Linked DNA regions of Homo sapiens. The protein of the gene in region 2 interacts with the protein of the main gene of each other region in a pairwise test. Each region holds a gene or a part of one and is shown on either strand. Other genes may lie near its edges.

The links. Proteins that work in one complex are often made in the same cells at the same time.
Region 1: the proteins of PEX10 (region 2) and PEX19 interact in a two-hybrid assay, tested with the Homo sapiens proteins (4 studies listed by BioGRID and IntAct, with this or other methods).

What each region holds. Positions count from the first base shown.
Region 1 is NC_000001.11:160,283,448-160,287,193, reverse strand, and holds the start of PEX19 (peroxisomal biogenesis factor 19), read left to right. Parts: upstream 1-2,060; 5' UTR 2,061-2,069; coding exon 2,070-2,139; intron 2,140-2,338; exon of another isoform or gene 2,339-2,829; intron 2,830-3,554; coding exon 3,555-3,664; intron 3,665-3,746. UniProt on the Homo sapiens protein: Necessary for early peroxisomal biogenesis. Acts both as a cytosolic chaperone and as an import receptor for peroxisomal membrane proteins (PMPs).
Region 2 is NC_000001.11:2,411,056-2,414,801, reverse strand, and holds the start of PEX10 (peroxisome biogenesis factor 10), read left to right. Parts: upstream 1-2,237; 5' UTR 2,238-2,299; coding exon 2,300-2,411; intron 2,412-3,746.

The DNA.
Region 1 (3,746 bases), about 160 Mb from region 2:
GGTGGCGCGAGCCTGCAGACCCAGCTACTCAGGTGGCTGAGACAGGAGAATCACTTGAACCCGGGAGGTGGAGGCTGCAGTGAGCCAAAATTGCACCACTGCACTCCAGCCTGGGCAACAGTGAAACTCTGTCTCAAAAAATAAAACCAATAGAGATGCCTGTTGATAGACAAGTTTTCTTTTTTTGACGTGCTTGTTACAACTATAGCCATATTGGAGATACACGTGTAAGCAGTTTGAATGAGAAAGTCTGGAATAAATTATGTTGCAGGTGTTGGAAAACAGGTTTATCAGGAAAGGATTTGATTACAGAAGTTTAGAATTGTAAAGGACTTCAAAAGTGATTAGTGGCAGAATTGGGGCTGGAATTTAGGCTTTCTAACTCACAGTTCATAATATTTTGATCCCAAAACACACTACTTGTGGTTGGAAGAAAACAGGTTTTGCAGATATGATTTTACAAGTCTGTGCCCTATCTGTGAAGGACATAGTAAGTGCTTGATCTGGTGCTTGATGCAGTACTCAAATGTGTGTTTAGGAAGCTAAGAATGAAAGTGATGAGGTGACTTAACACAGGATTTTTTTTCATTTAAAATTCTTACCTTGTATCATACTGTGTGTATATCTCATCATACCTCCGGCTCACCCCCACTTAGCTACCTTACAGCAGGGGGTGGTCCTGATTTATCTCTCTGTCCTCACTGTGCCCAGAACAAGACCTTAATAATAGGTGCTCTCTAAGTGCGAAAACAGATTTGTATGTGAAACAGTTGCTACATTCTGACATCTGAATAGAACAATTCCAAAGGAGGAAAGGGACGTCTAGAGTTACCTCTATCTGAGCATTCCCCGTGTTCACTCAGTTGGAGGTTGGGTTCTGTGTGGAGAAAAGGAGATTGTTCAGGGAAAGTAAGTCTATTACTACTGCATTCGAATTGCCCTGCTCAGTCCAAGGTACCAGAGGCTCTCTTAATAACATGGAGTTCTAAGTTCCTGGCCGGCCCTGTGTCCTTTAATCAAACAGTTCTAATAGATAATAGGAAATGAGAGATGCCACTAGATTGGGCAGACAGATGTGCCTGATTAGGGACTGCGAGAGCAAAGAGTGGCCAATGAATGCCTACTAAGTTTTAAACCCTAGCCTGGGAGTTGGGCTTTACAGCAGTGAAGACAACAGACGAAAATCTTTGCGTTCATGGTGTTTAAATTCTGCAGGGTGGGGAGCGGAGAATAAAAAAGTACGGTAGATAGTATGTCAGATACTGTTCAGTGTTAGGAAGAAAAGGAACGGGAATGGCCAAGGAAAGCGTTTCAGAAAAGATAATATTTGAGGGAAACAATGAAGTGAAGCCGGGCGCAGTGGCTCACGCCTGTAATCCCAGCACTTCGGGAGGCCGAGGTGGGCGGATCAGCTGAGGTCCGGAGTTCGAGACCAGCCTGGCCAACCAGCCTGGCCAACATGTTAAAACCCCGTCTCTACAAAAATTAGTCGGACGTGGTGTCGCGCGCCTGTCATCCCAGCTACACGGGAGGCTGAGGCAGGAAGAATCGCTTGAACCCGGGAGGCCAAGGCTGCAGTGAGCCGAGATGGCGCCACTGCATTCCAGCGTAGGCGACAGAGCAAGATTCCTTCTCAAAAAAAAATAAAAAAAAAAAAATGAAGTGAGAGAAAGTAGTATGTTATGTGCCATAATTGTCATATCAATTATATATGTTTAGATTCTGGTTATTTGTAGGCAGTTTGTCTCAATCTGGCCTACTCACAGCTCAGGAAAAAATAATGAAAGAGCTTCGCCAGGTAATTTGGGAAGTTGAAAGAAAGGAGTCCGGGCCTCTAAAACCAGACAGAAAATAACCCTATCTTATCCCTAATTCTGTTTCACAGGAGAAAAGGGAAAAATACCCAAAACACAAACACTCAAAGCTTCCTGGCCCTTTAAAAATGGCGGTTCCGCACTGGTCAACAATACCATTGGTTACCCGAGGCAGAAGAGGGCGGGAGCGAAGGGGTGGAGGGCGTGTCGGCACCGAGGAGGTCCCGCCTCCTACGGCAAGTCGGAGGTAGCAAGATGGCCGCCGCTGAGGAAGGCTGTAGTGTCGGGGCCGAAGCGGACAGGGAATTGGAGGAGCTTCTGGAAAGTAAGAGCCCATAGTGGGAAAGGCCCGAAGAGGGCACGTGTGAGGACCCATTCTGGGGGTTAAGTGAACCTGAGATATTAGGGACGGGCAGGAGAGGCTCTCCAAAGGTTAAATGGGGGCGGAGAGTCTGACCCCCGAGCCCCCCAAAAATCTCTGGGTCATCCTGCCCCACCCCGGCGACTGGAGCTGGGGAGCTCACCTGGGGTCCCTCAGTGGTCCGGATGGTGGATGTTTCCGCAGGACGGCGTTTCATGATACCTCTTCAAACTCCTCTTTAGGTTACTGAGTTCTTAAAGTTCGACTTCAGCAGCAGTAGCAGCAGCAGCAGCATTTGGTTCTTGCTGGGTAGCGAACTACGCACTCACTGATTGCTTACATTAACTCCTAGCAAGCTCGTGGCCGGTCCTTGTGTGCCTCGTCCTGTCTTCCTTAACACGAAAGACACTTTTCTCCTCCTAGTCCTTTTCTCTTTCTCTCGTTAGGCCCCTTAACAGTTCTTTCATCTTGTCAGTAGCTCAAGCGGACTCCTTTCCCTTATTTTGAGAAACTGAGGATGTGGCGATTTCAGGGGAAAGCAGTTCACCCTCCTGAAAGACGGGGGATGTTTTCTTAGCATTACTCTCCACTCCCCTGTTGACTTCCTGCCCAGAGTAGGGCCAGTGCTCTCTCCCTAGGCCTGGCGAACAGAATGGTGGTGAGGACACAGGCTTTTCAGGGCAGAGGTGAATTTGTAATCGCTTGCTCAATCACGGAGATGTGGGCAGGCAGAAAAATGAACAGAAACCCTGAGGAGTGCCAAGTGACTGTGTAAATTAGTGTACGGTTATCTGCAGAGATCAGGCCAAAGGGAGCTCTAGAAGGTTGTTGGGGAGCACTAAACTGGAGAATAAGAGAAGATAGTTTAATGCCGTACCATGGAGTCTGGTATGTAGTCCCTCAGTCTGTGCTGGTACCAGTACCAACAGGAAGCTGGGTGGGATGTCCTGTGCTTTCTCACCAAGTTATTCCTTTTAGAGCTCCAGAGTGAGTTCAGAGGGATGAGGACATCTGTGTTCTCTACTACTGTTGGGTATTTGTATGGGATTTCTAGGGAATCGTTAGGGTGTGGCAAGGGAGACACTATAGATGGAGATGTCTCTGCAGAACTTTTTAATCCTCTCCTCCCAGCTCTGAGATGGACATTTGTTCCACCTTAAGGGATTTCTTTGCCTTTGCTCACAATAAATTAGGTAATCCAGAAGGAAGTAGGAGGCTCATTGAGGGTGGTCTGGGGAGGTGGGGGACTCAAGGAGGAAAATTGAGGAAAGTTGGCAATTTGAAAAATCATATTCCTAATGCTTTGCCCAGAAACCACCCAGCCTTGCTTGCATTCTCATCTGTCGCCAACACACACACCATGTCTCTTGTCTCTGAAGGTGCTCTTGATGATTTCGATAAAGCCAAACCCTCCCCAGCACCCCCTTCTACCACCACGGCCCCTGATGCTTCGGGGCCCCAGAAGAGATCGCCAGGAGACACTGCCAAAGTATAAATTCCACCCCCTTAAGGGATGGGGAGGGGATGGGCATGCAGCCCTGAGCAGAGGTTGGGCAGGCCCCTATGGGCCA
Region 2 (3,746 bases):
AACCAGAGCTCCCAGGTTGCCTGGTCAGCCAGGAAGGACATGGAGACCTGACTCCCGCCCCACCTCCCTGAGACCCCCTCCAGGCGCTTCCTTCCCTCCGCTGTTTCGGGCAGATGGTCGCTCCACTTCGCCAGTGGTTCTGATCTAGATTCGATTCCCTTTGGGGCAAAACTCACCGCCTAATCCCCTATAACTCTACCGGGGAGCCCGGTGGAGAGCAGACGGGCTGACGCTGCCACCTGCCGGCCATCCCAGGATAGGACCGCCGTATTCAAGTCGCCCTCAGGAAGGACCCTCGGGGCACCAGAGGCCTTCGAAGCCCCAATGAGTGAGGCAACTGAGGGTCGCGGGTGCCATTACAAGGCCCAGCCAAGGCCTAGAGCCAAGGCTTGAACCGTGGGGGACCCCCAAGCCCCACCTGCCCAGGAACAGCAGACACTGGGACACTTTGTTTCAGGTCCTGCCCAGGCCCCTCCCACTGTGAGGCTGGGATTTGTCGCCCAGGGTGCAGATGAGAAGAGTGGGGAAAGCAGTCCTGAGCCAGGACAGCGGTGGGGGATGCCTCCTAGAGCAGGCCCTCCCGTCAGGGGCCCATCATAGAACCCAGTGTGAATCCAAAGGAGCCGAAGCCTCCTCCTCAGAATCAGACGTGGAGCCATGAACCCAGGGGCCAGAGCGGCATCTCAAACTGTTATCTAAGCATTGACCAGAACACATGATCACCTCAGCGGCTCCACGTGGGCGATGCCGGGTTGCCTGGTCCACGGATGAGGGGTTCAGCCCAAGGTGCTCAACCCAATCAGAGGGCAGCCTCTGTGTCCAGGAGACACGGGTGCACCCGCGGGGTCAGAACTCCAAAGGGGCGCGGGGGCGCTGGGAGGTTTGGTAGCCAGAGGGCCTGCGGGGCGGGGCCACCCAGGCCATGCCCCTTCCCTGTAAGAGGGGCCATTCCTGCAGTGTGGGGCTCTGGCTTTGTGACTGGGCTGTGCCAGTCTGGGGATGATCCCACAGCTGAGCTCCTGTAGATGGAACCAGAGGTGAGGCAAGGAACTGGAGGCCCTCCCCACTGAGGTCAGCGGGGCGCAGACGCCCCCTTGTCGTGCCCTGCCTTCCTCCTGCAATCCTGCAGGACTCTCCAGGGCCAAGTGCTGCCCTTGGGGCCAAAAAACAGGGCCTTCTCCTTCACCTGCCCTGCAGCCATTCAGGTATGTACCAGGCATCTCCTGCCCTCCCTGGCCAGGCGGCCCCAGAGGCACAGGCCGCAGACACCGCAGGCGACCTGCGTGGGCCTCCAGTTCCCGCCCCAGCCCTTCCCACCCCCAGCTCAGGGCAGGTCCAGCTGTGGCCAGCGGCTGGGGAAGGTTCTGTCCCCTCCAGGTGTGCGGCCTTGGCAAGTGCTTCAGGCCTCCCTCCGCTCGTCCCCTGGGAGCAGAGGGATCGGAGCGCCTGCGATGTGGTTCCCCAGAGCACCTGCGGGGCTCAGGCCAGGCAGGGTGGAGGGTGGAGGGTGGAAGGCCACCTTCCGCCCGTCCTGGAACCACGCGGCGGCTTCCCGGCTGCCCCCCACCCGCCAGGCCCTGCCTCCCGTGGGCACCAGGGGGGCGTCCACACCAAGCCGGCCGTGTGCTTTTCGCGCAGGATTACTGGGGAAGGCGGCTGCTCGGGGCCTGGAAGGTCCCGGGTCTCGCCTCGTGCCCCTCTGGCCCCCAAACCGACCGGCTCCCCGGAACTGGCCAACCCGCGCTGAGAGCCCGCGCAGCTCAAAGGGCGCGAGGGCGGGACCGCCGCGGCCGGCGCTGGGAGCTCGGCTTCCCGAAGACCCAAGCGAAAGCCTCCGTCTCCCCAGCCGTAAATGGGCCTGCAGCGTCTCCACTCCGCAGCGCTGTCCCCAGTGGGAGGGCGGCCCGTGGACGTGCAGGGAGCAGAGCAGGGGCCCCTGGCAGCGTAGGACCCCGAGGTCGCAGCAACCACGCGGCCGCGAGCCCATCCCGCTGCCTCGCCAGCGCCCCTCGCGCGTGCCCCGCCCCCACCTCGGCTCGCGGGCCCCGCCCCGCTCCGCTCCGCCCTGCGCCTCCGACTACCTTCCCGCTGCCCCGCCCCGCGCTGCGCTGGTTCGGACTCCAGCCCCGCTTCCGCCCGGGCCCTGGCCCCGCCTCCAGCCCCAGTCCGGCCCCGCCCCAGCACCTTGACGCAGAGGTCTGCGCCGCACGCAGAGCCACGTCGTGCCGTCATCAGTTCTCGCCCGTCTGGGCGTGGGCGTGGCCGGCGTGGCTGCTCGGGACCACCCGAACCCGCGGCCATGGCCCCGGCCGCCGCCAGCCCCCCGGAGGTGATCCGCGCGGCGCAGAAGGACGAGTACTACCGCGGTGGGCTGCGGAGCGCGGCGGGCGGCGCCCTGCACAGCCTGGCGGGTGAGGGCCGGGCGCGGCCGGACGTCCTCGCGAGCGGCCCAGGGGGTGTTGCCCCTCATGGAGGCGGGGTGTCTGCCGTGTGTGGTCACGGTCGCCTGGGCCCGTCCCACAACCTGGGACCCGGCAGTCTCCTTCGCCTGCCCTGCGGCCATTCAGGGATGTGCGGGGCACCTCCTGCCCTCCCTGGCCAGGTGGCCCCAGAGGCACAGGCCGCAGACACCGCGGGGGACCTGCGTGGGCCTCCAGTTCCCGCCCAAGCCCTTCCCGTCCCCAGCTCAGGGCAGGTCCAGCTGACGCCAGCGGCTGGGGAAGACTCTGTCCCCTCCAGGTGTGAGGCCTTGGCAAGTGCTTCAAGCCTCCCTCCGATCCTCCCCTGTGAGCAGAGGGGTCAGAGCGCCCGCGGCGCGAACGCCTCATACCTCGGTCCGGTTCACACTGACCCCGGCCTTTCCTAGGCCTGAGCAGCAGCCCAGGCCCCTCGCCCTGCTGACCCCAGTGTAGGCTCAGCCAGGCCCTGCCTGCCTCACCAGGCCGGGAGCTGAGTACAGAAGCCAGTGTACTCAATGAAGCAGCACCTGTCATCCCAGCAGTTTGGGAGGCAGAGGCGGGAGGATCGCTTGAGCCCAGGAGTTTGAAACCAGCCTGGGCAACATGGCAAGACCCCGTCTCTACAAAAAATCTGAAAATTAGCCGGACGTGGTGGCGGCGTCTGTAATCCCAGCTCTTCAGGAGGCTGAGGCAAGAGAATCGCCTGAGCCCGAGGGATGAGGCTGCAGTGAGCCATGATTGTGCCGCTGCACTCCAGCCTGGGCGACGGGGCCAGACCCCATCACCGATTAAAAAACGAAAAAAAAAAGATGCCGGGTGTGGTGGCTCACGCCTGTAATCCCAGCACTTTGGGAGGCCGAGGCGGGTGGATCACTTGAGGTCAGGAGTTCGAGACCAGTCTACACAACATGGTGAAACCCCGTCTCTACTAAAAATACAAAAATCAGCAGGGCGTGGTGGCGCGTGCGTGTAATCCCAGCTACTTGGGAGGCTGAGACAGAATCACTTGAACCCGGGAGGCGGAGGTTGCAGTAAGCCAAGATCGTGCCACTGCACTCCAGTCTGGGCAACAGAGTGAGACTCCATCTCAAAAAAAAAAAAAAAAAAAAAAAGGCAAAGCCATCAAGTCTTTGGGGGGTGGGGCAGGCAGTCGTTAAAGGCATGAACTCCCAGCAGAACGTTTCAGGGAGCAGTGGCACTAGAGCCCAGTGGTGGGGGTGTCGTGGCCAAAGGAACAGTGCCATGGGACAGGAAGAGCATGGGTAAATATCAGAGGACAGCCAGGCT